Linked DNA regions of Homo sapiens. The protein of the gene in region 1 interacts with the protein of each later gene in a biochemical or structural test. Each region holds a gene or a part of one and is shown in the gene's direction. Other genes may lie near its edges.

The links.
Region 2: the proteins of PLGRKT (region 1) and PLG form a complex in vitro, tested with the Homo sapiens proteins (one study listed by IntAct).

The regions. Positions count from the first base shown.
Region 1 is NC_000009.12:5,431,608-5,448,028, reverse strand, and holds the start of PLGRKT (plasminogen receptor (KT)), read left to right. Parts: upstream 1-10,103; 5' UTR 10,104-10,240; exon of another isoform or gene 10,241-10,397; intron 10,398-11,334; 5' UTR 11,335-11,460; intron 11,461-16,045; 5' UTR 16,046-16,051; coding exon 16,052-16,132; intron 16,133-16,421. UniProt on the Homo sapiens protein: Receptor for plasminogen. Regulates urokinase plasminogen activator-dependent and stimulates tissue-type plasminogen activator-dependent cell surface plasminogen activation.
Region 2 is NC_000006.12:160,693,957-160,710,664, forward strand, and holds the start of PLG (plasminogen isoform 1 precursor), read left to right. Parts: upstream 1-8,287; 5' UTR 8,288-8,348; coding exon 8,349-8,397; intron 8,398-12,450; coding exon 12,451-12,586; intron 12,587-13,743; coding exon 13,744-13,850; intron 13,851-16,708. UniProt on the Homo sapiens protein: Plasmin dissolves the fibrin of blood clots and acts as a proteolytic factor in a variety of other processes including embryonic development, tissue remodeling, tumor invasion, and inflammation. In ovulation, weakens the walls of the Graafian follicle.

The DNA.
Region 1 (16,421 bases):
TTATCAGTACCATCCTTCCTTCTGCCTCTGTCTACCCTGCTTGCCACTTTTGCTTCTAAAGCAGGAGAGATGATCCTCGTTTGTACTGATCTCAGGAGGACTGATTTCAAGATCTTATAAGTGGACCTGAAGAGATGTGAGCAAATTCCTGGTGAAGGAGCAATTTCCAGTAAATGTTCTTGATCTTCAAAAGCAGCATATACTAAAGAGACTCAAAACAAAAGACATGACAAACTGCTTTGTTTGCATCGAATATTTTAAAATGCATTTTATTATGTATAAAGACAATATCAAGATTTGTCTCCAGGTTCTATTTTTGATCATGTAGGGTTTTAAACCACTGCCCTATGCAATGCTCATTTCTCTTCCTCTGTTTCCATCCAACCCCTCACATTTGTTGCCCCTACCCTTGTCATAGACTCACATCCTATATGTGTCTCGTGTCAAACAGACTTCGTGGAAAGAATACTTTGTTCTAGTTACACAAAACAATGGTTTAAATGACAGGGGTAATTAACATGTATGGGTGACCAGAGAGTAGCAGCTGTCCTCATCTGACACTCACAATCAGATGCTTCTCTCGCTCACACTGTGTCTCTCTCCTTCCTGTCCTAAGCTGGGGAAGAGCTGGGCAGGTGAAGAGCTCTTGCCTTCAAAGGGCAGACCCCATGCCACAGGTACTTTAAAACAAAGATGAGACCTCCAACAATTTCCCCCACCCACAATAAGTTCATAAATCCAGACATAAGTAGTTATGGCCTGGATAAATGCTGTGGGAGTTGGGGAACACTCTGTGGTAAATATTTTAAATCTAGGGAATCTCAATAAATCAACAAAATGCCACTAAAGATAAAGTTTACAATTGAGAGATACTCTTTCAGGGGATCCTAGAAAATATTTCTTGATTTAATATCCTAGAACTAATAACATAAGTGAGTGTCACACAAATGAAATAGTCACCTTGTGAATCATTTCCTTTGGTAACCACACTTAAGGTGAACTGGATCAAGAACCCATTTAACCCATTTATTTTTGTAGGCTCATCATAAAAGAATGAGAATTTTTCTTTTCCCCACCATTTCCTTGAAAGGACAGCAAGACCTTTCTGCTCTGAGAGAGATATGTTCCAAACAGAAATTAATAAATAAAAATTTCAGATACCGAAAAGTCCTATACAAGAAAAAAGAAGACAAGTCAGAGCAATATGGTATAGTGCACAGGTGTGAGGTTCCTTTAGTTATGGTGGTCAGGAAATGTGTAAGAGGTGATATCTGAGAAATGAATCATGAAGATAACCATGGAAAGATCTGCCAAAAGAGCATATTTGGCCATGGGAAGAGACAGGTACAAAGACTATACGGGTGGAACAAGCTTGGCAAGTTCCAAGGATGAAAAGAAGAGAATTGTGGGTAGAGAGTGAGGAAGAGGGATGGGAGGGTCAAATCATATCATGAAGAGCCTTGAGGACTAGGGGAGAGGTTGCATTCTACTTGCAATGAAAAGCCACCAGATGGCTTAGAGCAGGGTAGTTGCCTGATGAATGTTCTAAAAATACCACTCTAGCTGTGGTACGAAGAATGGAATATGGAGGGGACTTACATTCATGGAGGCTGGAAAATCTTTAGGAGCTGTTTCTGTAGAGCATGTTCAAAATATAATTTGGAAGTAGAACCAGTAGGACTTATTGAGGGATATTAGTGGTAATGGATAAAAGGAAATCAAGGAAGATACATACTCACACACACATATATTTGTATATATTTATATACATTACATATATATTTGTATTTATATACATTAAATATATATTTGTATGTATTTAATATGCTTTTCCAGAGTAGGATACTATAGCCAGTTTCAATATTATGTGCATTCTCTAAATTAAGGAAGTCTAAAAACAAAACAGAAACTTTCCTGGTAAGTGAACTACTGGAAACCAGTCTAAACCAATCAAGAAAATCATGATTTCTAAAGAAAAAATTACAGTCTTTTCTGGAAATGGAGAAATTGGTGGCAGTATGTTGACAGTATTTCAAAGCCATGCTCCTGAGGCTTGCTATTAACCAGGCTCCAGTTATTTTGGAGAAATTCACAAGAAGGGCTGTGGGTTAAGTTTAGAGCATTTTTTTAAAACAATTCTTATGTTTTTTTTTTATGATTCTAAACATTGGAATATTTGAAACATTTAATGTTTGAACATTATTAAGATACAATATTTAGATATTTGACGTTTTCTACTTCGTGTAAGGGGGTTTGGCATCTTTTAGAAGAGAGACTCGAAGGTAAGTACAAATATTCTGAATAGTGCAGTATATCATTAAACACAATATCAGAATTTCATTATTCAACACTTATTCCATGGATTAGAGAATTCTTTTTTTTTATTATACTTTAAGTTCTAGGGTGCATGTGCACAACGTACAGGTTTGTTACATATGTATACATGTGCCATGTTGGTGTGCTGCACCCATTAACTCGTCATTTACATTAGGTATATCTCCTAATGCTTTCCCTCCCCCCTCCCCCAACCCCACGACAGGTTCCAGTGTGTGATGTTCCCCACCATGTGTCCAAGTGTTCTCATTATTCAATTCCCACCTATGAGTGAGAACACGCGGTGTTTGGTTTTTTGTTTTTGCAATAGTTTGCTGAGAATGATGGTTTCCAGCTTCATCCATGTCCTTACAAAGAACATGAACTCATCCTTTTTTATGGCTGCATAGTATTCCATGGTGTATATGTGCCATATTTCCTTAATCTATCTACTCATCTGACAAAGGGCTAATATCCAGAATCTACAAAGAACTCAAACAAATTTACAAGAGAAAAACAATCCCATCACAAAGTGGGCGAAGGATATGAACAGACATTTCTCAAAAGAGGACATTTATGTAGCCAACAGACACATGAAAAAATGCTCATCATCACTGGCCATCAGACAAATGCAAATCAAAACCACAATGAGATACCATCTCACACCAGTTAGAATGGCGATCATTAAAAAGTCAGGAAACAACAGGTGCTGGAGAGGATGTGGAGAAATAGGAACACTTTTACACTGTTGGTGGGACTGTAAACTAGTTCAAGCATTGTGGAAGACAGTGTGGTAATTCCTCAAGGATCTAGAACTAGAAATACCATTTGACCCAGCGATCTCATTACTGGGTATATACCCAAAGGATTATAAATCATGCTACTATAAAGACACATGCACACGTATGTTTGTTGCGGCACTATTCACAATAGCAAAGACTTGGAACCAACCCAAATGCCCATCAATGATAGACTGGATTAGAGCATTCTTTTGACTAAGTACAAAGAAGGAAAGCCTCGGAGGCTGAGAAATGCCATCAGGTGGGCATCAGCACTTAGGTGAGTGTGTGAACTCTGGAGATGAACTGGATAGGCCACCCTCCAAGCACCTCCACGTTCAGCACCTCCAGAACCTCTCCAAATCCCCTCATTTAGGGATTTTTATGGGGACTTCATCATGTACACATCAGCAATTGTTACCTCAATCTTCAGCCCCTCTCCCCTTTTCACAGGATGAGGTAGGAGGTGAAAGTTCCAAGCTTCTAATCATGGCTTGGTCATTCTTGTGACCAGCTCCCATCCAGAAGCCCACCAAGTTACTTCAGGAGAATGAAAGATGCTCCTATCACTATGGAAATTCCAAGGGATCAGGAGCTCTGTGTCAAGAACTGGAGTCGAAGGTCACATAGAACAAAAAATTTACCTAGCATACCTATCACTCAGGAAGTTACAAGTCTTTTAGGAGCTGTGTGCTGGAAAATGGGGAAAGAAATTAATGTATATTTATTTATTATAATACCACATGTAATAAGGTAGATCATTTTACTCATCAGAGTTCAGGAACTGTTCTCTGTTATTTTTATACACATTCAGAGTAGGAGACCAAGTTGAATTTCACAGGATTGCAGGAGGCTGAGATTCACAGGCTGAGAATAGGATCATGTGAGTTGCATGGGTTTCAAGAGAAGGAAGTTAACAGGGGCTTAGTATAGTGCTGTAGTGACCTCGCAGTTGAGGAGGATAGATATAAGGTGCTACTGTCAGTGGGAAAAAATAGGAAAGAGAGAAATATCTAGAGAAGATTTTAGGAGTTTCTTGTTCAATATGCTGTGTGAAGCATTTGCGGGGACTCCTTCAGAAAGCATAAGGTGAAGACCCTCATTATTCTTCATGCTTCACAGTTTACGTTTTCATTCAGTTTATGTTTTCTTAGAATGCTATTACATGCATGGACTGAGCCATGTGAAGCCTCAGTTTTATTCAGGTTACACTCTGAAATATAATCATTTTCAGCTCAAAAAACCTTCCTTGACTTTATTACCCCTTACATTTTTATCTTCTCCAATTACTCCTTTTCATAACAAACATCAATAAACTGTATCATTACCTTTTAAAGCTATCAAATTAACAAAACAAAACACAATAATTATAATAAAGATTAAAATAGCAGCAATGGTAAAACATATACCATTTAAAAAATGTCAGACCCTATTTTTGTGATTTACACATATTAGCTCATTTAAATCTTACAACAATCCTGTAAGGAAGGTACTATTATTGCCTCTATTTTAGAGATGTGGACACTGAGGCACAGAGCTTTAGTAACTTGTCTAAACGACACAGCTAGGAGATAGCACAGCTGGGATTCGAACCCAGACATCTGGTTCCAGTGTTTATGCTCTTAACTATTGTGCAAAGGTATAGTGAAATCAGCATCCTTATTCACTGCTGGCATGGTGTATTTGTTCAACTCCAAAAAGTTAAATGCAGAGTTACCATATGACCCAGCAATTCTGCTTTTACATATATACCCAAGAGAATTGAAAACATACGTTCATACAAAAACTTAGCAGCATTATTTATGACAGCAAAAAAAATGGGAACAATCCAAATGCCCCACAATTTTGAATGGATAAACAAAATGTGGTATATCCATACATTGGAACATTAATCAGACATAAAAAGAAATGAAGTACTGGTACATGCTACAACTTGGATGAACCTTGATCATACTAAGTAAAAGGAGCCAGACACAAAAGGCCATAGATTGTAGGCTTCCATTTATATAAAATGTCCAGAATAGGCAAATCTATAAAAACAAAAAGTAGGTTAGGGGTCCCCAGAAACTGGGGGAATGGGGAGAATGGGGAGTTTGGGGAGTGGCTGCTAATAGGTATGAGGTTTCTTTCTAGGGTGAAGAAAATGTTATGGAATTAGATAATGGTGGTGGTTGTACAACTTTTTGAATGTATGAAAAACCAATAAATTGTACAATTTAAGGTGGTACATTTTATGGTTGTGAATTACATATCTTAATCTTAAAAATCTCTAGGTAGGGAGAGAACAGGATCTGAGTCCACTGATGCCATTATATTACACTGCCACATGGTGTCACCGTTGAGGAATGGATGAAGTCCAAAGAAGGCTTACACAAAGCTTGTGTCCAGGTCATGCCCAAGCTACAGAGGTGCCCCAGGATTGGAGTGAAGGTTAAAATCCAGAATTTGGGGAGCACCATCCCAGAATGGTTTAATATTAAGGAGGTTCTAGCCTCAGCCCCACACTGTGCAACTATTTGCAGTCCTTCACAGACCGAAGTTCTTGGCTAAACCTGGTTCCCAGCTCAATGGGGAAATTCAAATCCTTGTGAAAGCATCTCTGTTAAAAGGAGACACTGCTAGGCACATCTTAAACTTCCAAACACTTTATTTTTTGAAAAACTGCTTCTTTATGGAGGTCCAAGGAAATATTGGGCAATTTTTACTGTCCTGGGATAGGGAGCATCAAATGAGTTGAGGATTTTACATCAATTTTCTCTAAAATATTTATACTACTTAACTCAGTGTATACATATGCATGTGCATATATATATGTGTTTATATATATACACACGTATATATACACACATGTATATACGTGTGTATATACACACATGTATATACGTGTGTATATACACACGTATATACGTGTGTATATACACACATGTATATACACACATGTATATACGTGTGTATATACACACGTATATACGTGTATATATACACACATGTATATACGTGTATATATACACATATGTATATATGCGTATACACACATGTATGTATATATACACATACATACGTACATATACATATACATACATATGTATATATACACATATGTATATATATATGTATACACACATATGTATATATACATATATATACTGAGAAATATCCAGCAATGGAAGTTGTTACATACACACTTATTGAAAATCCTTTAGCTGTTAAAAATGGTAAATATAAATGCAATGTAGCAACATAAAAATCCTTATGTTATAATGCAAGATGATATAAAACACATATTTATATATATGCATAAAAATGTACACATATATATTCACAAATTCATACAACTGAAAATAATTCACATACCAGTTAAAGTTATATGCCATTTGATTCTGAAATAAATTTCCTTTAACCCTCTTACTCCACATTTTATAAAATGTGTCCAATATCTATACCAAGACTTTTTTTTTCAATTTCCTGGGCATATTTTTCTATGGTCACTTTTTTCACTTATGTTTTAAAATTATGAAAAACATCATACATACAAGAAAATTTATAATGTGTGTTTTCGGTTTAACATGTATCCATCAGGAATCAGAATTTTACTCAGTTGGTTTGATTAAAGAGATATTAGTGAAGACACTACTTAAAGGAGTATGACTAAGAGAACCATCCAGTTGAGTCATCCAGAGTCTAGCAACAGCAGGAAGACTGCGCTCTCTCTAGGCTACATAGCAAAGGAGAAAAGTGTTTCCAGAGCCCATGGAGCTGGAGCCATGGAGAAGGGACTGCTTGCCAAGAGCTGCAATTGTGGAGAAACACAACCACCACCAGATACTCAGCCCCAAACAGAGAAAGAACAGAGAAAATATACCCTGATGTCTTTTTCCTCCTGCCTCCCATCTCCCTGAATGCCTCCCGCTGTCCAAACTCAAATGGAAACCAGCTGAGGAGAGCCCAGGTGGTGCCGTCCAAAGAGGTCAGCTTTGGGGTATAGAACAGGGCAGGGAAGTGAGGAGAATGAATATGATGGAAGGCAAACAGAAAACCTAGACAGTCTAATTGTTTTGTCACCCAGAATTTATTCTTTTCCTTTGCTCAGATGAAGAGCAGCTCATCCCTTACATATGAGAATGACAGAGTCTGACAAGATTTCTCCTCGACCAAACTTTAGTCAGGCTCCTCTAAGCCATCTCCTTGATTAGATATTGACCTTGGGCTGCAGTGTTCATCCTTGCAGAATCAGTGTTGGCAAGAATCCTGCTAAGTCAGTTTAGAGAGGATCTTCCCACCCTGAATGTTTGACCACTCTCAATATCTGATCAAATTCCTTACCCCCACCAGCCCCCAGGTGATGTCTGCTTACCCTGGCCTACCTTTAGCAAGAATCCTGTTAGGTCAGTTTAGCAAGGATTTCCCCTACCCTTGCTGTCTCTTCTTAGTAATTTTCCATCCACGGACCCCACCCCCATCCACACAACCTGCTCCTCGGCTATAAATCCCCACTTATCCTTACTGTATTCAGAATTGAGCCCAGTTCTTTACCAAGGTCTCTTTCCCCCTATTTCAAAAGTTGCTGAATAAAAATCTATTTTTACTGCTACAGCTATTGTCCAGCTTTGATTTTCCTTAACAAGCCTCATCAGCTGCCATATTGCCTTGAGGGGATGTCAGTTCAGGCACATTCTCACCCAGAAACTAAATTGTAATATTTATCTCCACCACTACTCTTTATGCAGGGTAATAGGAAAAGAGAGTCAGGGAAGAAGTAATTAACATTTTAAATGGAGAGCTACTATAATTCCTGCCTCTAGAGCTTGTTGCAAGGCTAAAATTAATAATCATAGCTTCCTACTCATTTACTTATGTATGTTTCCCCTGCCCTATGCCAACACCTAGGTAGATCAGGATTTTTTTATCTGGTATGCTTCAACACTTTAATTTCTTCATGATCTGAAATTTCTGCATTACTTCAGTTATCTGATAATCATTATTATGGCACACGGCAGTATTAAGAAGTGCCCAGTGAATCTCCAGGTGTCATGCATAGTTCTTCTTGCCCTCAATATATAGATGTAACCCAATTTCCTTTTGGTATTTGGGATGAATCATACCATTCTGTCACTGTGAGGAATCAAAGTGACCAGAGGGCAGTTTCAGCTTTCGAATCAATGAATTGAAATTCAATTCAATTCAGTGACGGGGTCTTCTAGTGGCAGCATTCCTTCCTTTGGATCTAGGCTTCCAAACACAATAAACCCAAGGTTGTAGAAATGGTGTGCTGGAATACTATGCAGCCATAAAAAATGATGAGTTCATGTCCTTTGTAGGGACGTGGATGAAGCTGGAAACCATCATTCTCAGCAAACTATCGCAAGGACAAAAAACCAAACACCGCATGTTCTCACTCATAGGTGGGAATTGAACAATGAGAACACTTGGACACAGGAAGGGGGACATCACACACCGGGGCCTGTTGTGGGGTGGGGGGAGGGGGGAGGGATAGCATTAGGAGATACACCTAATGTAAATGACAACTTAATGGGTGCAACACACCAACACGGCACATGTATACATAGGTAACAAACCTGCACGTTGTGCACATGTACCCTAGAGCTTAAAGTGTAAAAACAAACAAAAAAAAGAAATGGTGTGCTGGATATTTTCTATTTCTCCCTCCAGGCATTGTGCCTAGTAGGCTGACCTCTACAGACTACACAGACCTAGCTCCACTGTCTTCTGGCTTCCTGGTGGATCCAGCCAGCGGAAGACCCCAGCTGGATATCAGAGCTGGGAGAACAGAGAGGTGGGTCTTCTCCACTCTGTCCCTGCTTTGGGCTGACGTCTCAGCACTGGCTACAACTATAGAATCTCACCTTACTTGGTGAAAAGTTGGCATTGCTTGCTTTCCTCTACTGAACGACACGGTTCCAGTTGGTTACTCTCTCGTACAGCCACAGCTACCGCTCTCGCTCTCGCCTGGTTTTAGTAACTGCTTCCTTCCCCCACCCCTCAGCCCTATAGTTACTAACAGCTCCCCGCTGTTACTGGTTACTACTGGTTACGGAAGGCGAACTATGTGCCCGACACTGTGCTAAATGCCCACATATATTATCTTTTAGTCCTCACAATCCAATAAATTAGATGGCTTTAGTCCTGTTGCAGAGGTGATAAATTCAGAGTGACAGTGACAGAGCTAGAAATTGAAGGTAGGTGTGTTTATGCTAGAGTCTGTGCACTCAAACACGATTCCTTACTTCTTGCATCAGTTGTTAACCTCCCTTCAAGAGTGTCAAACCTCCTGGTAACCCGCCCATTCCCTTAACTGGAAATGAGGGTGCTGTTGCAATTTTCTCATCCAGCCATTCCACAAATGGTATCTGGAATGTGGGACCCACAGTCCAGAATCCTGAGGGCTGCTGTTGAGAGCATCAAGACGCGCCCAGGAGGTCAGGGCGGTGTGCACTCACACGCTGAGCCTGGAGAAAGTTAGACGCCTTCTCCACCGCTGTGGTGGTTAGCAGGGACTTTCCTGAAGGCCAGAGACTGGTGACGTTCATGCTATTTTTCCAAGCCATTTGGTAGCAAAGAACAGAGTGCCAACAATTCAAGCATTCTCTCAGGCTGGGAGAGAGACGTGGCTTATTCAAGATAGAAATTGCTGGTGAGGTTGAGGCGAGACCGACATCTCTCTGAGCAGCAGGGGAGAAAGACGGCTCTGTTCAAAAAAGAATGGGTAATTTCAGTCAATTCTCTTCTTTCTCGTTTCTGTCTTATCTTTATGACTTTTTAATAGTGCCAATTTAACAGATGAGGGGACAGAGGCCTTTAATTGAGAATTCCACTCCGCTTCCTCTGCCTCATCTCAAAAATCTGGCAGCTGAGTCGCCGCGGCTTTGAATTTGCCTCTTTTGACCTTCCCCTCCCACCTCTGGTAACACTGAGCCTGGCCCGGAAGGACACACCCGGCTTCTGGCGGAAGTGCCGGCTCTTTAAAGAAGCTGAGGGCTGCGCGAATTGGCTGAGGTGCGTCATCTACTGTGTCTGGGCGCCAATCCCGACGCTGGGCGGAGCGAGGCCCGGTCCCTGCAGCGGGCGAAAGGAGCCCGGGCCTGGAGGTTTGCGTACCGGTCGCCTGGTCCCGGCACCAGCGCCGCCCAGTGAGTGAACACCGGCCGCAGGCGGGTGGGGAGAAGGGTCAGCCCGGCCATGTCAGTCAGCGCGATCTCCTGGGCTCCGGGCTTGCCAGGCAGCGCTGGGCGCCCGCTCCTCGTGAGCGCCGGCTCTTGGCTCTCGCACTGCCCCTGGTGCTGATAGGTATTGCCAACTTCGTTCCATTAGAGCGCGTTCTTGTCGCCTGGCGTGGACTCCGGATCTCTCCGTAGCTTTAAAATAGAGTTGAGAAAAACAGGCACAGTGCTCTCAACAGAAATCAGCACACTATTGCGGGGAATACCTAAATTACAGTAACTGGCCTCAGGGAGCAAGGGCGGTGTTAATTACAGAAAACCTCCGGAAGCTGTGGGCTCTGGGCTGGAATTTGCAAGGGGATGTGGCTTAATTTCAATGGGATGCAAATATTGAAAATGACTGTGGTGAGACGATCAGTCATACATTCAGGCAATGTGTCATCTGATCGGGAAATAAGTCAGCGTGGTAATCCCGATGACAGAATTCATGCAATTAATTTTTTATGTCCCCCCAAGTAAAATCAAATCTAGGTACTCACGGGTGACCGGAAGAAAGGTTGTCTGGAACTTGCAGGCACCACTTCTCCTCCCCAGAAATACACCTTCCCATAGTAATCTATAGCTCACCTGAGGCAGGGCTGAAGCATTAAAGACCCCTTCCAAGATCTCAGAAGGAATCAAAGGGAAAATGAAGACAGAGGGATTGAAATCAGCATTCTCTGCAAAACATCACTCTGAGACACAGTGATGTTTAAAATTGTATAAGTAGCAAGACATTTTTTTTTACCCCTGGTGAAAAGTGTTAGAATTTTTAAAAGACTTAACTTATACAAGTGAGTGAAATCAAAGTTATCCCTATTGCAAGGTCAATTTTGCTTATTTTCTGATACATATTTTGTGAGCAAGAGGAGATAGCTGAAAGTGTTCTGGACACCCTACGGAATATTCCCAGACTTTGGGAAATGACTTTGCCAGGAATGGGGAAGTTGGGAAAGGAAAGAATGTTGAAAATACTGAACTCCAGGGTGAAATTTACAAGGTGTGATGCATTTATTTATTCTCAGGTGTGGTTTCCCATAAGGAAGCTCTTCTTCCTGCTTGGCTTCCACCTTTAACCCTTCCACCTGGGAGCGTCCTCTAACACATTCAGACTACAAGTCCAGACCCAGGAGAGCAAGGCCCAGAAAGAGGTAAATCTAAATACTAACTTCCCAGACAGTGTTTCTTTCCCAGATGATTGACATGAGGACTCTCTCTTTTCAGGGGAGATCCTAACCCCTTACAAACAGGAGCACTTGAAAGCACACAGCTCTGTGATATACAGGGTATGTGGAGGAATAGTACTAGAGTACAGTTGTTTTCTTTATAAATGTTTGCAGCAGGTGTAAAAATTTAGTCATCCACTCCTATGTTCAGAAGAAAAATAAGTAATGGCAAGTGGCCTGAGCCACAGTTTTTCTTGTATCTCTCATGCTTTGTGCAAATATTTAGGGGAAGTAGACACCATGGAGACTATCAAGATGGATAATATCTCGCTCCTAACCTCAGGCAGGTTCTGGTCTGCTGTTAGAGATGAGTCGCATGGGACTGTTAGGGTTTGGAGAAAGGAAAGAACTGCCAAATCACCCTGCTGTCAGTGAGTGGCCTCTAACTCTGGTCACAGGGTGCTCGAGTGGCACAGTGGCAGAAGGGGAGGGAAATCTCACCACCTCAGGCCTTTTCAGCATTGTGCCTCTTCATCCTGGTAAGTGGTTTGGTATCCTGTGCTCAGCTTTGAAGCTGACTCTGGCACAGAGCCCTGAAACTCCAGGTGTATCCTTGATCAGAATACAAGGAAGTCACTGAAGTCTTGCTTGCAGCTCCCACTCACCTGGAACCCCATTAGCTGGGCTTCCCACAGAATACTTGGGAATCCTGGCTGTAATGAATTAAGACTGGCCATTCTTACCTGAGGTTCACAACCCTACTCAACAGCCTATTAAAGAGAAAAGGTATCAGCAACATTGTTGAGAAGGGTAGAGCAGTTGTAACTTTCCCCTGAGTTTTGCAGTATTCTGAAATGCAACCAACTAACTCAAGGTCTTCTGTACCCACCCAGTTGGATTAAGAATAAAAATTGGAGTTCTGTCCCTTGTAGAGTTGACAGCCCACTTAAAAACTTACATAAGATAGACACTACTGTGCATTCATCTAAAAAGTACATTTTCCAGGACATTCAAGTATCTGTATGTTTTTCCATTTTTGAGAACTTTAGTACATGCTATCTTGGAGAGAATGAGAGTGAAGCTGGAGGAGGATGGCTAAGGCAGTTAGCAGTGGGTGGATGGAAATAAGGGGCATGTAGGAGAGGGACAGGGATTGTGGTGGGATGACAGGAAGAATAACTGGTCTACTGACCTTGAGACAGCTCAATCTTCTTCTTTTTTTTTTTTTTTTTAGTATTTATTGATCATTCTTGGGTGTTTCTTAGAGAGGGGGATGTGGCAGGGTCATAGGATAATAGTGGAGAGAAGGTCAGCAGATAAACACAAGAACAAAGGTCTCTGGTTTTCCTAGGCAGAGGTCCCTGCGGCCTTTGGCCCTGTTTGTGTCCCTGGGTACTTGAGATTAGGGAGTGGTGGTGACTCTTAACGAGCATGCTGTCTTCAAGCATCTGTTTAACAAAGCACATCTTGCACCACCCTTAATCCATTTAACCCTGAGTTGACACAGCACATGTTTCAGAGAGCAGGGGGTTGGGGGTAAGGTTATAGATTAACAGCATCCCAAGGCAGAAGAATTTTTCTTAGTACAGAACAAAATGGAGTCTCCTATGTCTACTTCTTTCTACACAGACACAGTAACAATCTGATCTCTCTTTCTTTTCCCCACATTTCCCCCTTTTCTTTTCGACAAAACCGCCATCGTCATCATGGCCCGTTCTCGATGGTCGCTGTCTCTTCGGAGCTGTTGGGTACACTTCCCAGATGGGGCGGCCAGGCAGAGGCACACCTCACTTCCCAGACAGGGCGGCCGGGCAGAGGCGCTCCTCACTTCCCAGACGGAGCGGCCAGGCAGAGGCACACCTCACTTCCCAGACGGGGTGGCGGCCGGGCAGCGGTGCTCCTCACATCCCAGATGATGGGTGGCCAGGCAGAGGCGCTCCCCACCTCCCAGAGGGGGCGGCCAGGCAGAGGCGCCCACTTCCCAGACGGGGCGGCTGGGCAGAGGCGCTCCCCACCTCCCAGACAAAGAGCAGCCGGGCAGAGGTGCCCCTCACTTCCCAGGCGGGGCAGCCGGGCAGAGACACCCCTCACCTCCCAGACGGGGCGGCGGCCGGGCAGAGGTGCTCCTCACTTCCCAGACGGGGTGGCGGCCAGGCAGAGACGCCCCTCACCTCCCAAATGGGGCGGCCGGGCAGAGGTGCTCCTCACCTCCCAGACGGGGTGGCCAGGCAGAGGCGCCCACTTCCCAGACGGGGCGGCCGGGCAGAGGCGCTCCCCACCTCCCAGACGAAGGGCGGCCGGGCAGAGGCGCCCCTCACTTCCCAGGCGGGATGGCTGGGCAGAGACACCCCTCACCTCCCAGACGGGGTGGCGGCCGGGCAGAGGCGCTCCTCACTTCCCAGACGGGGTGGCGGCGGGGCAGAGACGCCCCTGACCTCCCAGACAGGGTGGCAGCCGGGCAGAGGCACTCCTCACTTCCCAGATGGGGCGGCCGGGCAGAGGCGCTCCTCACTTCCCATTTGGGGCAACGGGGCAGAGGCGCTCCTCACTTCCTCCCAGACGGGGCAGCCGGGCAGAGGCGCTCCTCACTTCCTCCCAGACGGGGCGGCCGGGCAGAGGTGCTCCTCAATTCCCAGATGGGGCAGCCGGGCAGAGGCGCTCCTCACATCCCAGACGGGGCGGCCGGGCAAAGGCGCTCCTCACATCCCAGATGATGGGCGCTCAGGCAGAGACGCTCCTCACTTCCCAGACGGGGCAGCCAGGCAGAGGCACTCCTCACATCCCAGACGGGGCAGCCGGGCAAAGGCGCTCCTCACATCCCAGACGATGGGTGCTCAGGCAGAGACGCTCCTCACTTCCCAGACGGGGCAGCCGGGCAGAGGCACTCCTCACATCCCAGACGGGGCGGCCGGGCCAAGGCGCTCCTCACATCCCAGACGATGGGCGCTCAGGCAGAGACGCTCCTCACTTCCCAGACGGGGCAGCCGGGCAGAGGCACTCCTCACATCCCAGACGGGGCGGCCGGGCAAAGGCGCTCCTCACATCCCAGACGATGGGTGGTCAGGCAGAGTCGCTCCTTGCTTCCTAGACGGGGTGGCGGCCGGGCAGAGGCACTCCTCACTTCCCAGATGGGGCAGCCAGGCAGAGGCGCTCCTCACATCCCAGACGGTGGACGGTCAGGCAGAGATGCTCCTCACACCCCAGACGATGGGCGGTCAGGAAGAGATGCTCCTCACATCCCAGACAACGGGCGGTCAGGCAGAGACACTCCTTACTTCCTAGACGGGGTGGCCAGGCAGAGGGGCTCCTCACATCCCAGACGATGGGCGGCCAGGCAGAGATGCTCCTCACTTCCTAGACGGGGTGGCGGCCGGGCAGAGGCACTCCTCACTTCCCAGAGGGGGCGGCCAGGCAGAAGCGCTCCTCACTTCTTCCCAGACGGGGTGGCTGGGCAGAGGCGCTCCTCACTTCCTCCCAGACGGGGCGGCCGGGCAGAGGCCCTCCTCACATCCCAGACGATGGGCGGCCAGGCAGAGACGCTCCTCACTTCCTAGACGGGGTGGCGGCCGGGCAGAGATGCTCCTCACCTCCCAGACAGGGCGGCCAGGCAGAGACGCTGCTCACTTCCTAGACGGAGTGGCGGGCGGGCAGAGGCTGTAATCTTAGCACTTTGGGAGGCCAAGGCAGGCGGCTGGGAGGTGGAGGTTGTAGCCAGCCGAGATCACGCCACTGCACTCCAGCCTGGGCAACATTGAGCACTGAATGAGCGAGACTCCGTCTGCAATCCCAGCACCTCGGGAGGCCGAGGCGGGCAGATCACCCGAGGCCAGGAGCTCGAGACCAGCCCAGTCAACACGGCAAAACCCCGTCTCCACCAAAAATACAAAAACCAGTCAGGAGTGGTGGCGCGTGCCTGGAATCCCTGGCACTCGGCAGGCCGAGACAGGAGAATCACCGGAGCCAGAGGCAGGGAGGTTGCAGCGAGCCGAGATCATGGCGGTACAGTCCAGGCTCCGCAAGAGAGGGAGACCGTAGAAAGAGGGAGGGGGAGGGGGAGGGAGAGGGAGAGCTCAATCTTCTTAAAACGCAAATGCAAAGAGCACAAAGAAATATGTTCTTAAGACGCACAAGGCATCTTCTTAATCATCCCTCCTCAGATGCAAAGGTTCTGTTGCCTAATTGTACAGAGGTAAGAAGATGGATGGTATCCACCCTTCCCCTCACAAAAAAAGAGAGTTGTTTTTTTCTTCAAGAATTCAGTTCTTCAAGATTTATGGTGGGAAGAAAAATCAGGAAACAGCCATATACTTATAGAGCAGGGAAGGATTTTGGAAATTATCTAGTTCAATCAGTTGGTGTTAGGTGAGTAAAATGATGGCCAGACTCGTTAAGTATGCCTGAGGTCAGGCAGCTAGTTAGGAGCAAGAACTAGAATCCACACTGTGTTCCTAGATCAGAAATTTTACTTTTTTTTTTTACTTTGTCATAAGCCCAAGGTAGCTCAAAGTGGAGCATACAAGAATGCATGTAGTGTATTATTATAAGTCTCCTTGCTTTTTTTACATTTTAGGTCAAAATGGGGTTTATATTTTCAAAATCTATGAATGAAAGCATGAAAAATCAAAAGGAGTTCATGCTTATGAATGCTCGACTTCAGGTATGTTTTAAAATAATTAAGCTATTATGTTGTTACAATGCTTAAAGTTTCTACCACATGTACTCCAGCCGTACATTCTCTTTGACTCCCAACAATAAAATGTTCTTTGGGCTGCATCCTTAAAACCAAGATAAAATGGCTTACTAATTATCTGGTGAATGGGCTAATTTAAATCTCCAATCCAGATAAATTTGTGTAAAAATTTCCATTCTGTAGGAAGAGATAACTGCTTAGAGTATGTGGTACATAGAATAATGCCCCCCACCCCCAAAGATAATGTTTGAGATGG
Region 2 (16,708 bases), on another chromosome or scaffold:
TCGAGGGGAACAACACACACTGGGGCCTATCAGAGGTTGGAGGATGGGAAGAGAGAGAGCGTCAGGAAAAATAACTAATGAGTACTAGGTTTAATACCTGGGTGATGAAATAATCTGCACAACAAACCCCCATGACACATGTTTACCTATGTAACAACCCTGCACTTTTATCCCTGAACTTAAAATAAAAGTTGAATAAGAAAAATAGAAATGTACAAAGCTAGAAAAGAGTGTAGCTCATCCCATCTGGGAATTAAACCAAATCTTACAGCTCATACATAAAAATAGTTTGATAAAGATTTTCCTAAGTGTGCCAAGAATCCTGAAAACTAATCTTCCATTATCGATCATGAGCTATGAAGCCAGAAGAAAAATTTAAATCTATCAATAATAAAATACTAGAGCCAAAATAGTTTATTATTCTCTTCTCTCATAGAATATGATATTACAACATTATTGAAGAGGCAATCAAAGCATACACAGGCAAAAATGTTGGTAAAGGAGTATTACAGCAATAGGTCAGGAATTTGTTTAATTAAAATTGCTATTTTACTGAGTTTTATATATATTTAGTGGTAGCAGTAGCCAGAGTAGACTTTGCTGGAGTCTGGGCCATTGAGATTGGTATTATTAAGGTTATGTTGGCCTCATTTGCTCTTACCTTCTGGCATACACAGGATACATCTCACTTGATTTCTCACAAGTCTTTGGTACCCATGACCACTCCCACCTTTTTACAATTTTCACTTTTGCTGGCTTCTCTGGACTCACGCTGTCAATTTTCCCCTCTGGCTAACTGTTCTCAGTCATCTCTACAGAATTCTCTCCTTCTGGGTCTTTATGTTGTTGAGGACTTTATCCTAGGGCTTCTTTTTCTCTCTCTGAGCAAGCTTGTCCACCCCCATTGCTTCAATCCCACCTATCTGCTGACAACTGCTGATTCCACATCTCCAGCTCAGACCTCTTTCCTAGGCTCTACACCAGGAATTGGCAAACTTTTTCTGTAAAGCGATGATAACAAATATTTTATCAGCTTGCTGCTCATTGTACTGTCTCTGTCACATCTGCTCAACTCTGCTAAGGTAGTGCAAATATAGCCACAGAAAATGGTAAAAGAATGGGTGTGGCCATGTTCCAATAAACTTGATTTATAAAAATAAGCCTGCTTCATGGGCTATAATTTGCCAACTCCTGTTCTAAACCAGAATATTCAACTCCCTTCTGGAAATTTCCACTTGGGTTTTCTCAAGTTCCTAAACATAACATTGTCCCCAGGCAATTTCATCTTATTCCCTCCTATGTGTTCCTTCTTAATGAATGATCCACTATCCACCAGATGTCCAAGACAGAAATTCAGGCAGCATACTTGATTTCATTCCCCACATTCAGTCAGTCACAAAATCATGTCAATTCTACTTTCTCAACATCCCCCTAATCCATTCTTTTTTCTCTTTCTCCACTGCCTTCTTTCACCCCCTCTCATCTCTCACCTCCTATGACCTCCTCACTACACTGCAATCAGAGAGATCAAGCCACCCTTGGATTTTAAAAGCCTTCAGTAACAGTAGTCCCTGCCTTTCTTTGGCTGAAGTCTAAACTTCTTGAAACAGAGTGAGAAGCCTGCACAATTGGACCATTTCCCCATGTTAGCCAAATTCCTCTCATCTGCCTGCTCCTCCCGCCTCTGGGACCCTGCACATATATTTCTTCTGCTTAAAGAATGTGTAGCAGGTGAAGCAACTATCTGAGGCCAGTATCCCATGGGCAGTAAGAAGAATTTACCAAGACAGTTGTAGATAAAGAAAGGCAGATTTATTAAAGAAAGCATGAAAATATGTTGCAAGGCAGCAAGGGGCAGGCCAGCAAGAGAGGAGCTGAATGCCAAGAGACAAAGGCTTGCTGGGGGTTTTATAGGATGTTGCTTGTGCTGCGTGCTGAAGAGGGCTTAGTGCAGTACTGATAACACCAAGGTTGCAGTGGGATAACCTGCATTTTTCTATCAGCTGAGGGCCTGGTGATAGCTGGGCACAGGAAGATTGTGAGTTATTTGTGCAGGAGGGCTATGGTCCTGGACCATGAAGAAAGGCAAACTTATAGCTTATCTGCTTTCTCTTTCTTTTTTCCTCAGTGTCACCAGCCTGATTCCTTTTGCCTAATTAGGACTTCACAGAATTATTCTCCTTTCTCATCCTTCCAGCTGTCTTCTAAGTCTCAACTTGGATGTCACTTCCTCTGGGAAATGTCTCCTCACCTCTCAAGACTGTCTCTCTGTGCACCACTACAGCAAATGGGACCTGGGCCACTTCACTTTTACAATTCCAGTTTACAGACCTGCATTGCCCCAACCCCGTTAGACCAAAGACTCCCTGAGGGCAAAGATGGCCTCTTATTTACTCTTGATTCCCTAGCACCCAGCACAGCACTAAGCATTGTACCCACTGAAAGAACATCTGAAGGATGAGCGTTTATAGCAAAAGTGGTTTCCACTGACGTTCCCTTCTCTCTTCCCCAACTTTGGATTGAGGAGCCCAGGAGCTGGTCAGGTGGCAAGATAAGATGAGAACGGAGAAGTCATTACTTGGGGCCTCTGTTTTGCTGGTGTTTTGCTGGTGTGTGGAGATGGTGGGTTTCCCTTGAATACCTGGGAGGCAGGAGCAGGCATGAACTACTCCAGCCTCTGGGTTCTGGATCCACATGGGGTGCTGCTGCTCTCTGGCACCCATCAGTCCTTAACCATCTGGTCTCCAGCCAGGGAAGGAGCGTGGTGGTGGAGAAGCCTCTCTGTCCCACCCACTCATCCCAGGAGCTCACGAGAATCAGCCAAAGTCCGAGTTCTGCACCCTGAGTTAGGAACTCTATAACTTTAGACTTTCCCTGAGCTTTGGGAGTTCTCTTAACTAGTGTGAAAGCAGTTACATCATCCTGGGTCCTCCTAAAATAGACACATGTATCCAAATATAGGCACATGTATTGCAAACATAACATGTATGTATATATGTAAATATATACATATAATTTTTGTTTTGAATTAAGTATAAACACAACAAGTTACAAATATAGTACTGAGAGGTCCTTGTATGGCCCCGCCTCCCTCAGGCAGTATCTTACATAACTATAGTTCATGATTACAACTGGAAAGTTGCCATTGGCACCACATCAGAAACTAGTCTGCAGACCTTGCTCAGATTTCACCAGGTTTTTTGTGCACTCATTTGCTTTCCTGAAAATATTTTAATGTTTTTCTACATGACTTATCTCCCCGACATACTGTGAGATAAGGTTTTTTTTTCTCCGAATAAGCTTAGAGAACAATGAATGTGAGAGGTGGGAAGGATGATTTGGTGCATCTCTGTTTTATCCATGGTGAGTCTGGACCTCAGAGCAGAAGGACCCTCGTCTCTCCTCTGGGGAGTCCTGGTGCCAACTCAGTGCAGGCTGCTAAGTTATCCGGGTCTGACTGTCTTCTTCTCTGCTAAAATTTGTCTTAAGCATGTAACACAGCCATGCTTATTAATGATGAGGAGACAGCCAATGAAAATTAATTTTTTCAAAGATGAATAGATATCTAGATTTTTTCAAGCACAACTCATTTAAGAAAATATCACCTCACTGAGCCCCAAATGAGTTAGGTCTCACTTAGAAAGTGTCCCCTAGTGCCAGGTAAAGTGCCTCATATTTGCAATCCCAGCACTTCTGGAGACGGAGATAGGAGGATCTCATGAGCCCAGGAGTTCAAGACCAGCCTGGGTAACATGGCAAAACCCTGTCTCTACAGAAAATACAAAAAAAAAAAAAATAGCTGGGCGTGGTGGCGTGCACCTGTGGTCCCAGCTACTCTGGAGTCTGAGGTGGGAGAATCGCTTGAATCCAGGAGGTTAAGGCTACAGTGAGCTGTGTTTGCACCACCGCACTCCAGCCTGGGTGACAGAGCCAGCCTCTGTTTCCAAAAAAAAAAAAGAAAGAAAGGAAAAGAAAATGCCCCCGAGTTGATTACATTTTAACCACTGTGCTAACTTGAGAGATAGTCTGCTATCTCTTTACAGGACATGAGGGCTGATAATCACCTCATTGCATGGTCCTGGGGACTGATGAACAAAGGCTAACATGTGGAAAAGGGCAACTAAAGAAAGAAGAGCCACCTCCAGGTTAATTAGTACAAGTCTCCTCGCTGGTATGCCCTAATACACTAAAACAGCAGTAAAAACAATCTGCACATTGGCATCGAAGGCACAGATAAACTTGCCGAGGACCCTTACCACGGCAGAGGGATGCTTTATATGAGTCCTTAGTAGATTAATTAAGTTCTTGCTAGTTCCATTTGGAAATGATGCTGTCCTCTTGGGGCTATGCAGAGAAGTTCATGTTGATGAAATGAGCTGTCCTAGAATGGCAGTTCCCGGGCAGCAGAGCCTGGGCTCAAGGAAGGTTGAAAGAAGGGGTGGCGTGGAGCTGCCAGGTGCAAATGTCAGGCCAGCAATGCAGTCCAGCTTGCATGGACGTGCTTCGCCTAGGAAGTTGTGACTTGGCTGCATTTTCCACTTCAGGTGAGATGGAAGGTTGAACTCTACCTCACCTCCTGGTGAGGTTGATGTTTCCTGGTGTTTATAACTTTCTTTGTAAATACTTGAAAGGAATTTACCATTTTAATGCTGGAAGAGACGTCTATTCCTTCTTAAGAGGACCTGAGTGGATCTTGATTGCAGGCCTTATGCTGGGCAGAGCTAAGGAGAATTCAATTTGTCTCCAATCTTATTTGAATGTTCTTTTTTTTTTTTTTTTTTTTTTTTTTTTTGAGACAGAGTCTTGCTCTCTCACCCAGGCTGGAGTGCAATGGCACGATCTCGGCTCACTGCAACCTCTGCCTGCTGGGTTCAAGCAATTCTCCCACCTCAGCCTCCCCAGTATCTGGGACGACAGGAGCATGCCACCATGCCCTGCTAATTTTTGGTATTTTTAGTAGAGATGGGGTTTCACCATGCTGGCCAGGCTGGTCTCAAACTCCTGACCTCGTGATCCACCTGCCTTGGCCTCCCAAAGTACTGGGATTACAGGCATGAGCCACCGCGCCCAGCCTATTTGAACGTTCCTATGCCTGCTACAAGTGCAGCAGCAGAATCTCCACACATCTTGCGTGCGAAAGTTTCCTGTAGTTCCTTTAGCATAGAGAGGCTGGGGAAGGTTAGAGACTGACTTGTACTCTTTAGACATATAGTTGATCATTGAACAACACACGTCTGAACTGTTACACACAGATTTTTTTCAATAAATGTGTTAGAAAATGTTTTGGAGTTTTGCAACAATTTGAAAAAACTCAAAGACAAACCATCCAGCTAGAAATATCAACAAAAATAGAAAAAGTTAAGTATGTCATGAATGCATAAAATATATGTAGATACCTAGTCTATTTTATTCTTTACTACCATAAAATATAACAAAACTATTGCAAAAGTTAAAATTTAGTAAAAATTGTGTACACACTCACAGATCGTATATGGTGCTATTCTCAGTTGAGAGAAGTGTATACAAACATCAAGATGCAGTATTAAATTGTAACTGCATAAATTTAACCGTAGTGCATACCACACTATGGTAATAATTTCATATCCTCCTCCTGTTGCTGTTGCAATGAGCAAAGGTGTTGCGAGTATCCACTTAAAACGTTCTGTGATACTCAACATTCCATCATGAGCAGTTCATCCCCAGTGAATTGCGCATCACAGTAAAAAGTGCTCTCTCCCTGTTCGCATGTATTTTTCGTCCTGTTTCGTGCTGTACTGTAAACCTTGAATAACACCATGGGATCCAATATGAAGTGGCACTAGTGATGCTGGAAGTGCTCCCAAGAAGCAGAGAAAAGTCATGACATTTGACATTACAAGAAAAACTGGATTTGCTTGATATGTAACAGAGACTGAGGTCTGTAGCTGGGGTTGCTTCCATTTCAGACAGATGATTCATCTTGTAAACAGGTGGTGTAAACTTACTGTATGGAAAAATACATAACAGTACCACAGATGTATTTTCTCCTTACGAACATTTCCTTTTCTCTAGCTTACTTTATTGTAAGAATACAGTATATCATACATATAACATACAAAATACATGTTATTAACTGTTGCTGGTCAACAGCAGGCTGTTAGTAGTTAAGTTTTTGAGAGTCAGAGTTATACCTGGATTTTCTACTGTGTATGGTCAGTGTGCCAACCCCTGAAATTGATCAAGGGTCAACTGTAATCCTAAAAGAATCTAATACAATATTGTAAACAGTAAGTGGTCAATAAATAAGGAATTGAACTAATAAGAATACATAAATCCCAGAATATGTGCAACCTGATCATAGTACACAGAGATCTCTCTATATATCTCTTTTCTTAGTTCATGCTGTTCTTTCAGGTAGAAAGCGCCTTATTTTGAATTAGTTGTCTTTAGAGCAAAAATCCCTCCAAGAGTGCTGTGTGGTTTCCTATGCACAACCTGGAATAGTCCATTGCTTCATGCCTACCCTGGACATGAAGGGCCATGCCGCAGCGGAAGTCTCTATGCACCCACCCCCGTCTATACCTGAGCAACACATTCCTCTTTGCTGCTCTCTTACAGGCTACAGAGTGCGGTGGCGCCAGCACAGAGCTCTGCTCAACGTCCCTCTGTGCTTTCACGATGCTGATGGATTATGAAGGTAGGGAAGAATGTACAGCCAGGAGGCCATTAGGAGGGCAACTAATTTATAAAATCACATTTGTAGAATTTAATGCATCCAACAACTACCAGGGGAAAGGTGGGCAAAAGCTATACCAACACCACCCAAGTCAAAACCAAAACAACAGGAAAAGAAAATTATGTGGATGTAGAATTTCTGATAACATCATTCCCAAGGTGCCTTATCCAAGAGGAACTGCTACAATAATATTTTAAGTGGAAATAAATACATGCTGGAAGCATTATATATTAGTAGAGTATTTTTTTTTCCCAGAGTACTTTCTCAAGCACATCAACATGAGCCCCCTAAGAGACATTTCACATTAAAAATAAAATGTCTGCCCACTGCTGGTTTCTCAATCTGCCTCCACCTTCTGTCCCCTTTAATGAACTGGGCCATGAGGTGAGTCAGAGAGGATAAAGGGAGTGGTAAGAATTTGAGGAGAGAAGAGAGTGAGGCTAAAATAGGAAATCAGGAAAAGCGATTCGGTCCCCCTGTCCCTCACATGGGGCCACCCTCTTGTTGCCCAGTGTGGCTTCTTCTTGAGGGTTCTGCATGGTTCCTCAATCCCAGGGAATTCCGCAGGACATTCCACCCAAGACCATTGGGCTCCCACCTCTACTCTTTTGCCAGTTAATGAATAGGCAGGAATTTCACTGCCTGGAAAGAGGAACAATGCTTTCTGGTCCTTATTTCACATCTAAAATAGAGAGGTCAATTGATTTATTCCTAAATATCTTTGAACACTAAAATAGAAGTTTTACAGCATATATACTACCTGGTTGCTCTAGACTTAAGCCAGGGAAAAGTACAGATTCAACATTTAAAATTGAGATAGACGCTTTCCACTTAATGCTACCAGTCTTGCTTTATTTCATGAGAATGAGAATATAATAATATGGCATACGTTCATTTGGGGGAAAGATTGATGTCTTATAACATAATTTATAATTACAGAAAACATGTGAGTTCACTGGGAATAAATAAATTTTGAAGATAATAAGATACTTTCACTTATGTCGTAATTTCTATGTCATTTGGTGTAGGATGTAGAGATATTAACGTTTACACCTAACTTAAGTTTGTCATCTAAGACCTGAAGGGGTTTTGTCTATCAGCTGCACCCCTGGGTAGAGACACAACCTTGGGGAAGGCCTCAGCCCCATCCCTCGTACAGCAGGAATGAGAACAGCCCTGCCTGTTGGGAAGCTTGAGGGAGGCTATGGACGTGCAGCGCTTGGCAGAGGGTCTCGTCATGGAAGGTTCCAGCAAATGTGAGATACTTTTATGATTTCATTTTCTCCAAAAGAAAGGGAATAAGAGAAGAGGGGAGGAAATAAGACTAATTGCGAGAGATAAAGTACAAGGGTGAGGGAAGGAATAAGGAGACATGACGGCAGCGTGGAGCAGCCGAGGGGGGAGATTGCTTTCACCACTTCCCAGCATCTATTGCAGATTCCACCCTCAAACATGTTGTAAGGACTCTTTATTCAAGGTAATGTTTGAACCCTGCTGAGCCAGTGGCATGGGTCTCTGAGAGAATCATTAACTTAATTTGACTATCTGGTTTGTGGATGCGTTTACTCTCATGTAAGTCAACAACATCCTGGGATTGGGACCCACTTTCTGGGCACTGCTGGCCAGTCCCAAAATGGAACATAAGGAAGTGGTTCTTCTACTTCTTTTATTTCTGAAATCAGGTAAGACATAGTTTTTTTAAATTATAAGAATTATTTTTTCTCCCACAATGTAGTAAAAATACATATGCCATGGCTTTATGTGCAATTCATTTAATTTTTGATTCATGAAACTTCCAGTTGAAAATCTTGTATAAGATTGAGGAATTCTTCAAGAAATAAGTTTAAGTTTCCTGTGAAGATTGTCAGGGTGCTGGAATGAATGGGCAGAGAAAATAATGGGTGATTTTTCAAATCTAAATGAGTGCACCCACATAATGGCCAGTCTAATTGAAAAAGAGCCAATGTAGCTAATTATGCAAAGGACGGCTAAGCTCTTTGCCTGGTTCTCAGTTTGACTAATTTATATCATCTCTGTTACGGTGTCATGCTCCCCTCACTTGCAAGTTAAAACAGTGAAATATCTCTTTGAATATATTCCGTTCTCTCACCAGTTCATGGTGGCGGCAGGGTCGGGGACTCAGCATTTCTCCCTTTGTTATGGCCTGAGGAAGGCTTTCCATCAGTATACGTTTGCCTCTTATCCCCGGAAAAATCACACGCATCCATTTGCCAGATGCTGTGTGCAGATAGTGATCAACAAATACTCAGTTGCTTGGGTTAGGTCCCTACATTTTTACACATACATACATACCTGTGTGTGAATGTGAGTGTGAGTGTGTATCCTTTACAAATACTAGCTTATTTAGCTCGTGGTATAGGTAGGGTAGCATATTCATCCTCATTTTATAAACAAAGAAATCAGACTTAGGAATATCATGTTATTTGCTCAGTGACCAAATTCTCAGATCTGGGAAATAAAGAAAACTGGATTTAAGCCAGGTTTCCCAGAAGGAATCTAGGGCTCTTCTCACTTTTCAGCTTTGTTTAAGCCTTTGAAAGAATATTCTAAACATGTCCTAGTACTTCTTTTTCTTTAAAAAAAAAAAAGCTTTATTGAGATATAATTAACATATAGAATTCACCCATTTAGGCATACAATCCAATGGATTTCAAGATATTGAGAGTTGTGCAGCCACCATCAGAATAAATTTTAAAACTATTCATACCCCCAAAAACGCACTCCACTCTCCTTAGCTGTTACCCCCAATCTGCAGCTTCTGGCAACCACTAATCTACTTTCTGTATTTATATCTTTGCCATTTTGAACATTTCATACAAACGGAATCATACGATTTGCTAGTAGTTCTTCATGTAAATAATGTACGCTTGAAATTCAATCTATAAATTACCAGATAAAATTTTACAAGTTGCACTTTAGAGTCAAATACATTTGAATTTAGTGGAAGCCATTCAAGGAGCTATCAAAGAAAATACAGAGCAGGAGAAAATTAAAGAAATTTTTGTAAGAAATTGGTGTATGTTGGGGGGTATGAATATTATATTTCAATGCATGGAAACTAGGACATAGATCACTATGAACTTATTCAGTGGGCTACACCCAAAGGCTAGATCAAACTTCTCTGCCACAGGATTAACATATGTTTTAACCCACCTGGTGGGCACATTCTCTCATAAGCTCTTTTGGAAAGCCAGGTTTTCTGTGGATGTATCATCTTTCCAGTGTGCTGCAATGCCCGGGGAGAGGGAAAAGTTTCTTTTACAGCCATGCTTAGTGGGAAGTGGAGAAACATCTTCCATTTCACAAATTAAGTCTTTTACACATGCAAATATGCATACACATTCACACACCACAGTGAGGAAGAAATTCTCACACCATTAATAAAATACATTTGCATCAGTAGCAATATACATCTGCATTTTGCCTATAATATAAATGTATTTTTCCACTAAAAGATTTGTTTGATGTTTCCTTGCCAGCAAATAAGCCCTATCAAATCCTATTGCCATATGAGTCCTAGAGGTGAATAAGAGAAGAAAAAATGGGGGAAAATTATTTCAAACTGAAAAGAGAAAAGTTTGATTCTGTTTTGGGATATTTCCTAGGGACATGAGCTGGGGAGGGGATCTCAGCAGCGATGCGCTATGAAGCATAGTAACATAACACAGAGAACTTAATTGAAGGGGGAAATAAATGGAAGTTTTCTTTTTTTGAATATCAGTTGTAGCCTGCTCTGCTATACTTCAAAAAAACTCTTCAGAAAGTTTAACTGAACTCACTGTAGGACACACTTTGTGGATTTATTGTGTGTTTTGAAGTCACACTGTGAGCTATATAGAATTAACCAAAACACAACTCTTCTTGAAAATGAGAGTTCAAGTTGGCAGAAAGTGCGGGGTAAAGACATGGATATGGGCCTAAAGCATCTATTTCTTTGTGATCTTTTGATATATCTCTCAAGTGCTTTTTAGTGGATTAGCTTTAGAATGCATCAGCCAACTCCTGCTCAATAATCCATTTTTCCAGCCCGGAATGTCTTAAATTGAGGAAGGACAAAGTCCCAGAGGTGGGGAGCAGGGGGACTTTGGCCGAGGACTTTGCATGAATCGATGAGCATGCATCCACCTCCCTGTCCTGCCCCTTGTGCTCTGTGTACCCTCAGGAGGTCAGGACAGGCCTTTCTGAGAATGAAAATCTGTTCATTTGCTTTCCTACTGGATACTTGTCATCAGCATACAAACCAATGCGCTCTGCAGTGTGTCATCTTTCAGAACCTCCCCTGACCGCATGTTCCCTGGAGGGCTCGCTGTCTTCAGAGCCAGGCTTGTCTCCTGCTGCAGCCTCCACTGCTCTCCTAGTCACTCTGTAACCCACCCCCTCTGCCTGCGGCCCCCACCACGCCCCTCAAAGTGGTCAAGGTTGTCCTGTTGTCTAATTCCATGGAGCTTGCCTGTCTTCATTTTATTAGCCTCTTTTGGCCTCTCACCCTTGTGCAAATCACTAGCATTCTGTGCCAAGGACGGAGCTGGCATCTCCAGGCTTGGAATAGAGCTACCAAAGCTCAGCCAGATGTCTGGAAGAGCCTCAGGACAAGGGGACACCCTGTAGCCTTGTGGTGGGAGCACAGCTGAGGCCCCCTTGGCCACCCTCTGCCACGACCAGGCAGAAAGCAGCTTTCGGACAGATTCGTTGTCTCAGATTTGATCTCAAAGAAAAACCAAGACCAGTATTTGTCCCAGGTCCTGCTTTTTTACAATTTCCTCCGAAATCCAGATACCTGTCAACACCTTGGAAAAACTGACTTCTCCCCAATTAGTAGTGTTGTGTGACTGTCATAAGCCCAGTACAAAAATGGCCTTCTTTGTTGGGGAGCTTCTTACCCTCCAGTGTTTTGCCCAATTTTTGTCCAAGGTGGCAACATAATTTAGTTCAGTTCTTGTTTATTTCCACCATCATCTATGCACCAAAATTTATGTTTCTCAAGGAGGGACCATTCAGAGGATGCTTCCCACCGGTTCAAGTGACAGTGCCAGAACCAAAGCGCATATTGTAGGAAATCAAACAATGGCCTCCAAGTTCCATTTCTACCCAGGGATGAACAAATCAACATCAATCTTGGTAACACAACTGCCACTGATGGTGCCTTACTCTTCTCTCATGACATGGCACAATCAATAGCAAACATAAAATTTGTTCTTGTTTAAGGATTTATATCCACTAATATGGTAACATAGTAGTGGTTCCATAGTTCTAACCTGTTTGTCAATCCAGTTAATCTTTTACTATCTTGCAATCTGCTAATGAAACTGTTTTTCTTTGTTTTATAATTTCAACTTTTAGAGTCAGGGGTACATGTGCAGGTGTGTTACATAACTAAATTGCGTGACACTGAGCTTTGGGGTACAAATGATCCCATCACCCAGGTAGTGAGCTAAATACCTACTAAATAGGTAGTTTTTCAGCCCTTGCCTTGCTCCCTCTCTCCCTTCTCTGGTAGTCCCCAGTGTCTTTAGTTGCCATCTTTATTTATGTCCAAATGCCCGACTGTGTGTTCTTAACTAAACATTTTGATTCATAGCTACCCATTCTACTTCCAGTAAACAGAAAGTTTTATTTGGTTAATGCTAACCAAATAGATTAAAAGGAAGTCATGACAATTAGACATTGACATTGATTTACTGACCATTTATTCCACTTGGATCTCCCACCTCTAGGTCAAGGAGAGCCTCTGGATGACTATGTGAATACCCAGGGGGCTTCACTGTTCAGTGTCACTAAGAAGCAGCTGGGAGCAGGAAGTATAGAAGAATGTGCAGCAAAATGTGAGGAGGACGAAGAATTCACCTGCAGGTATTTCCATTGTCGTTGCACCTACGCAGGAATCTGTAATTCAGATGGCAAGTAATTTACTCACAAATTTATTAATGATTTAAGAGGAAAGAGAAATTTATGGAGCCAGAGTTTGGAACTATATTTGCTCACAGTATGTGAAGCCATACTAACAGCTTCTTGTTAAGGTTTATTGGAGTCTTTGTTAGAAAAATACCCTCAAAGGAAGTTATTTGTTTTTACACCGGACACAAACATTAGCAGTTATTGTTCTGAGCTCCAGTTTTCAACATCATCATCAGTAAATGTTTGTTGAGGATCAGGTGAATGAAAGTGTCCTAGATAGATCTGAGCAATGACTTATAGCTACAAGATCCAGTGCCTGCCCTTTAGTATTTAAGGTGTAGTCAAAGAAACTGGATATAATGTTAAAAAAAAAAAAAAGACAGCCCAAGTGAGGTACAGGCATAATCAATGCATGCTCTACCCAGATCCAGAAGAAAGAACAGTGCCTAAGGTTGAGGCAGCTAGAGAAGGCTCAGGGAGGAGGTGGGAACTGAGCTGGGTTTGGAGTTGAGAGAGCTCTTGACAAGCACCAGGAAGGCAGGGGAAGATGCGGCCCTGCACCTTCTGAGGGGGACCATTAAGAGATGAAGTTGACTAAAGCAGAGACTTTGTGTAGGTGACGGGCTTGGGAAGGTAGCTATGGAATCCAGACTGAGCACCCATAGCAGGACCACGGGATGGAGATGGGAGGGGTCAGGGGCCAGGGTGGGGTGGAATGTGGAGCAGAGGTTCAGGGGAACTGATCAGAGTTGGGAGGTCATGGAGACGGACTATCTTGGCGAATGGGTTCAAAGCAACCAGAGTTGCTTCTTTCCAACCCAAAAACAAAAATTAAGAAGATGAGTGAAGAAGAAGTAAAGCAGTTGAAACAGGAAGAAAGGGAAAATTATGAGGGAGGGAAGGTAAGGGCAGATAAGATTTGCTGCCACGTTGGTGTATTTTGTTCAGTACTTCATCGATGCCATGCCCAAATAACTGAAAGAGGCAGCAATTCTGAGCTCTCTGGTCCCTCAAGATATTCAATGATCTTTAGCATGTCTCACTTATTAATAAACATTTGTTTTCTTTAAATAAAGAAAAATACTTATTGGATTTCCTGCTTCGTTCTGCAGGGCATTCCAATATCACAGTAAAGAGCAACAATGTGTGATAATGGCTGAAAACAGGAAGTCCTCCATAATCATTAGGATGAGAGATGTAGTTTTATTTGAAAAGAAAGGTGAGTACATTTTCTTCCTCCTCCTCCTACTGTCCTCCCCATCCTCCCACTCTTCCTCTTTCTCTATTCTATCTTTAATTTATAAGACCAGAGGAGGAAGGCACTATCGTGTTATAAAACTGAATTCTGAGTTAGGACAGGATTTGATTACTAACTAACCATGTCAGCTTGAGTGTATTACTTCACCTCTTAGATTTAATTTTTTTTGTTCAAAAGATGAAAGGATTAGATTTACAAAATCACTTCTACCTCTATGACCCTGAAAATAAGATTTTTAAAATATTATTTTATATTTAACAAGGAGATGGGAAGTCTAAGCATTCCTTTTGGTCTTGGCTTCTTATTCTGCAGGGTGACCATGGTCCTTGGGCCCTAACATCTGGATGAAGCCTTGTAAAACAGAAATACTGAGGTGTTTTAATCCTCAGAAACATTTAGATTGGGACACAAATCTTATTTTTACTCTTAAATTTTTCACATTTTGGGGGACATGGTCTATATTTTTCTCAGATTTCTGAAATGTTGTCTTTTAAAAATGTGTAAAAGTTACAGTTCCTTTTCTATAGTTTATTTTAAAATGTGGGTCAATAGTCCCACTGCTTAGAATAAGAGGCAGACAGGATTTCAATAGAAATTGCATGCCTTTTTAGATGTGCAAATGTTTCATTAAGCATTTCCCATCAAGTATATCCCATCAAGTATGCTCCCATTAAGCATATCCCATCAAGTATAAATATTTGAAGGGATGCATGACACTTTAAAAACTGTTTCCTCTACTGTGTTGGTAGCCAGGTATTAAGACTGTTAATAGTAACAATTTAGCTCTCCAAACATTCTGCATCCCAGGTGTTAAAGAGGACTGGAAACACCTTAGTTCTTGTATTCTTGAGGATGATTTGCCATATTGTGTCTAGTATTACGGCAAAACTCTAAGTAGCATTTTAAATAGTATTTATTTGGGTTGGAATTATTTCTATGCATTGACTCATCTTCCTGGGTTTCATTAGCTGTACGCATTGTACTTCCTTCCTTACCACTATTTATCTCGAATTCTTGAGATTAAAGTGCAGATTAAATCTAAACTTTATCTGGTGAAGTTATTAGTTCTTACAAGTAGCAAGCAAACGGTAAACTAAATAGGATCACCTAATTGTACCAGATTTTAAAAAAAAAAAACCCTGATTCTCCTGATTCTCTCTACAAAATGCTAACATTTAAATATGTCATTTGTAAATTGTTAACCAGAAGGAACATGGGAATGACTGTAGGTTGAGTTTGAAGTCTGAAGTTTGAAGGCTTAGTTTGCTTGTTTTCAAAGTGACAGAAGGGAGCAAAAGGTTATATAAACTCTGATGGGTACATACAAAAAAAAAAGAAGTGAAAAGTCAAAAGTCAGTCATTTTTTGGTCCTTGTTTCTTTGCTGTGGGATATTGACCTGCTACTAACTTACCTGCCAGGGTTTTGCCAGGAACAGTCAGTGTTAGATCACATTTACTTCTGCCACTTGCCACCAGCCACACTGCCTTCACCAAGTCCAAGACCCTATCACCACTGGTTGGGGCTACTTGTAGCTGTACACATGATCTCTAAGAAATGTAACTTCCCTGTTTAAAGCCCTTCCTAGTGCCCTTAAAATAAGACCCAAAGACTTCCCAAATGTGCTAGGGCCCAGCATTATTTAAGTAACCCCCAGCTGCTGTTTGCTTGGCTTGCTAAACTTTTCTACACTGGCCTTACTTCTGTTCCTTCACCACCCCAAGCACACACCCTCCTGCCTGGGACCCTCTTCACCTTTGTCCTGCTGTGCCAGCTCCTTCTTATCTCCTAGGTGTCAGCTCAATCATCATGTCCTTTGCAAATCTTCCTTGACCCCTAGACCTCCCTTTCACAAAGTACCTTGAGTTTACACTTTTGATGAGTGTCTTATGTCTACTGTAATACTATGTCCCAATGAAGATGTACTTGCAATCATAATACGCAGTATTGGGTTAAAAGCATTAGTTTGCTGTAGGTATGTTAGGAGCACTTTCCCCATGTGATTGATCAATTAATTAAAAAATGGCTAAAGTGGGTAACCTTAAATGATGGTGTAAATATACCTTAAACATTTTATATTTTCATTGAAAACACAAGTGTACTTGACACCTTTTGACGTAGAGCAGAGGCTTTTCTTCTTCGAATATGGGGTCACCAGTAGAAGGTCTCTGGTGTATTTCCTGCATAAACTATGCTCCAGTGCAACATCTACAATAATTACTTTCCTTATTTTTGAAGTGGACCATATCTCGACATTTATTAATCAATCTGAATGTGTAAAACCTTTAGATTTTTATGAATTCCTCCTCAAGCTTTATAGTCAACTATATGAGTGGATTGCCCTCTGTGGATTTGATAGCAATTTTTTAAATGATTCATGTTTCAACTTGTTAAAAACATTTAATTTAGTTAAAAACCAAACAAAAAAGAGCTTTGTTTCTTTTCACATTCATTTCTCAGTTTAGATCATCTTTAATTAAATATAAATGTAAGAAAGTTGGAAAATGCAAAGAAATGACTCGTTGTAAGCACATAACTCACGTGGGGGGAACAGACATGGGTGGGCACACTAGCAAACACCTGCCAGCTGCATGTGGACCCAGGTGGGCACCGGACTGTTTTAAACACAGGAGAGGGCCCGTTGTCTAACTGGTGAGTTGGTTGAGTGGAAGCTGGTTGAGAACTTTTACTGCAAACCATTTACAGTAGACCACAATTTTATAGCCCTGTTTGGCACTTTTTCATATCACTGGGAGCCTGAAGAAATAGAAGTGGGTTGGATCTCTTTCAGCCTCTGAAAAGCCTGCCATTCCCCCATCTA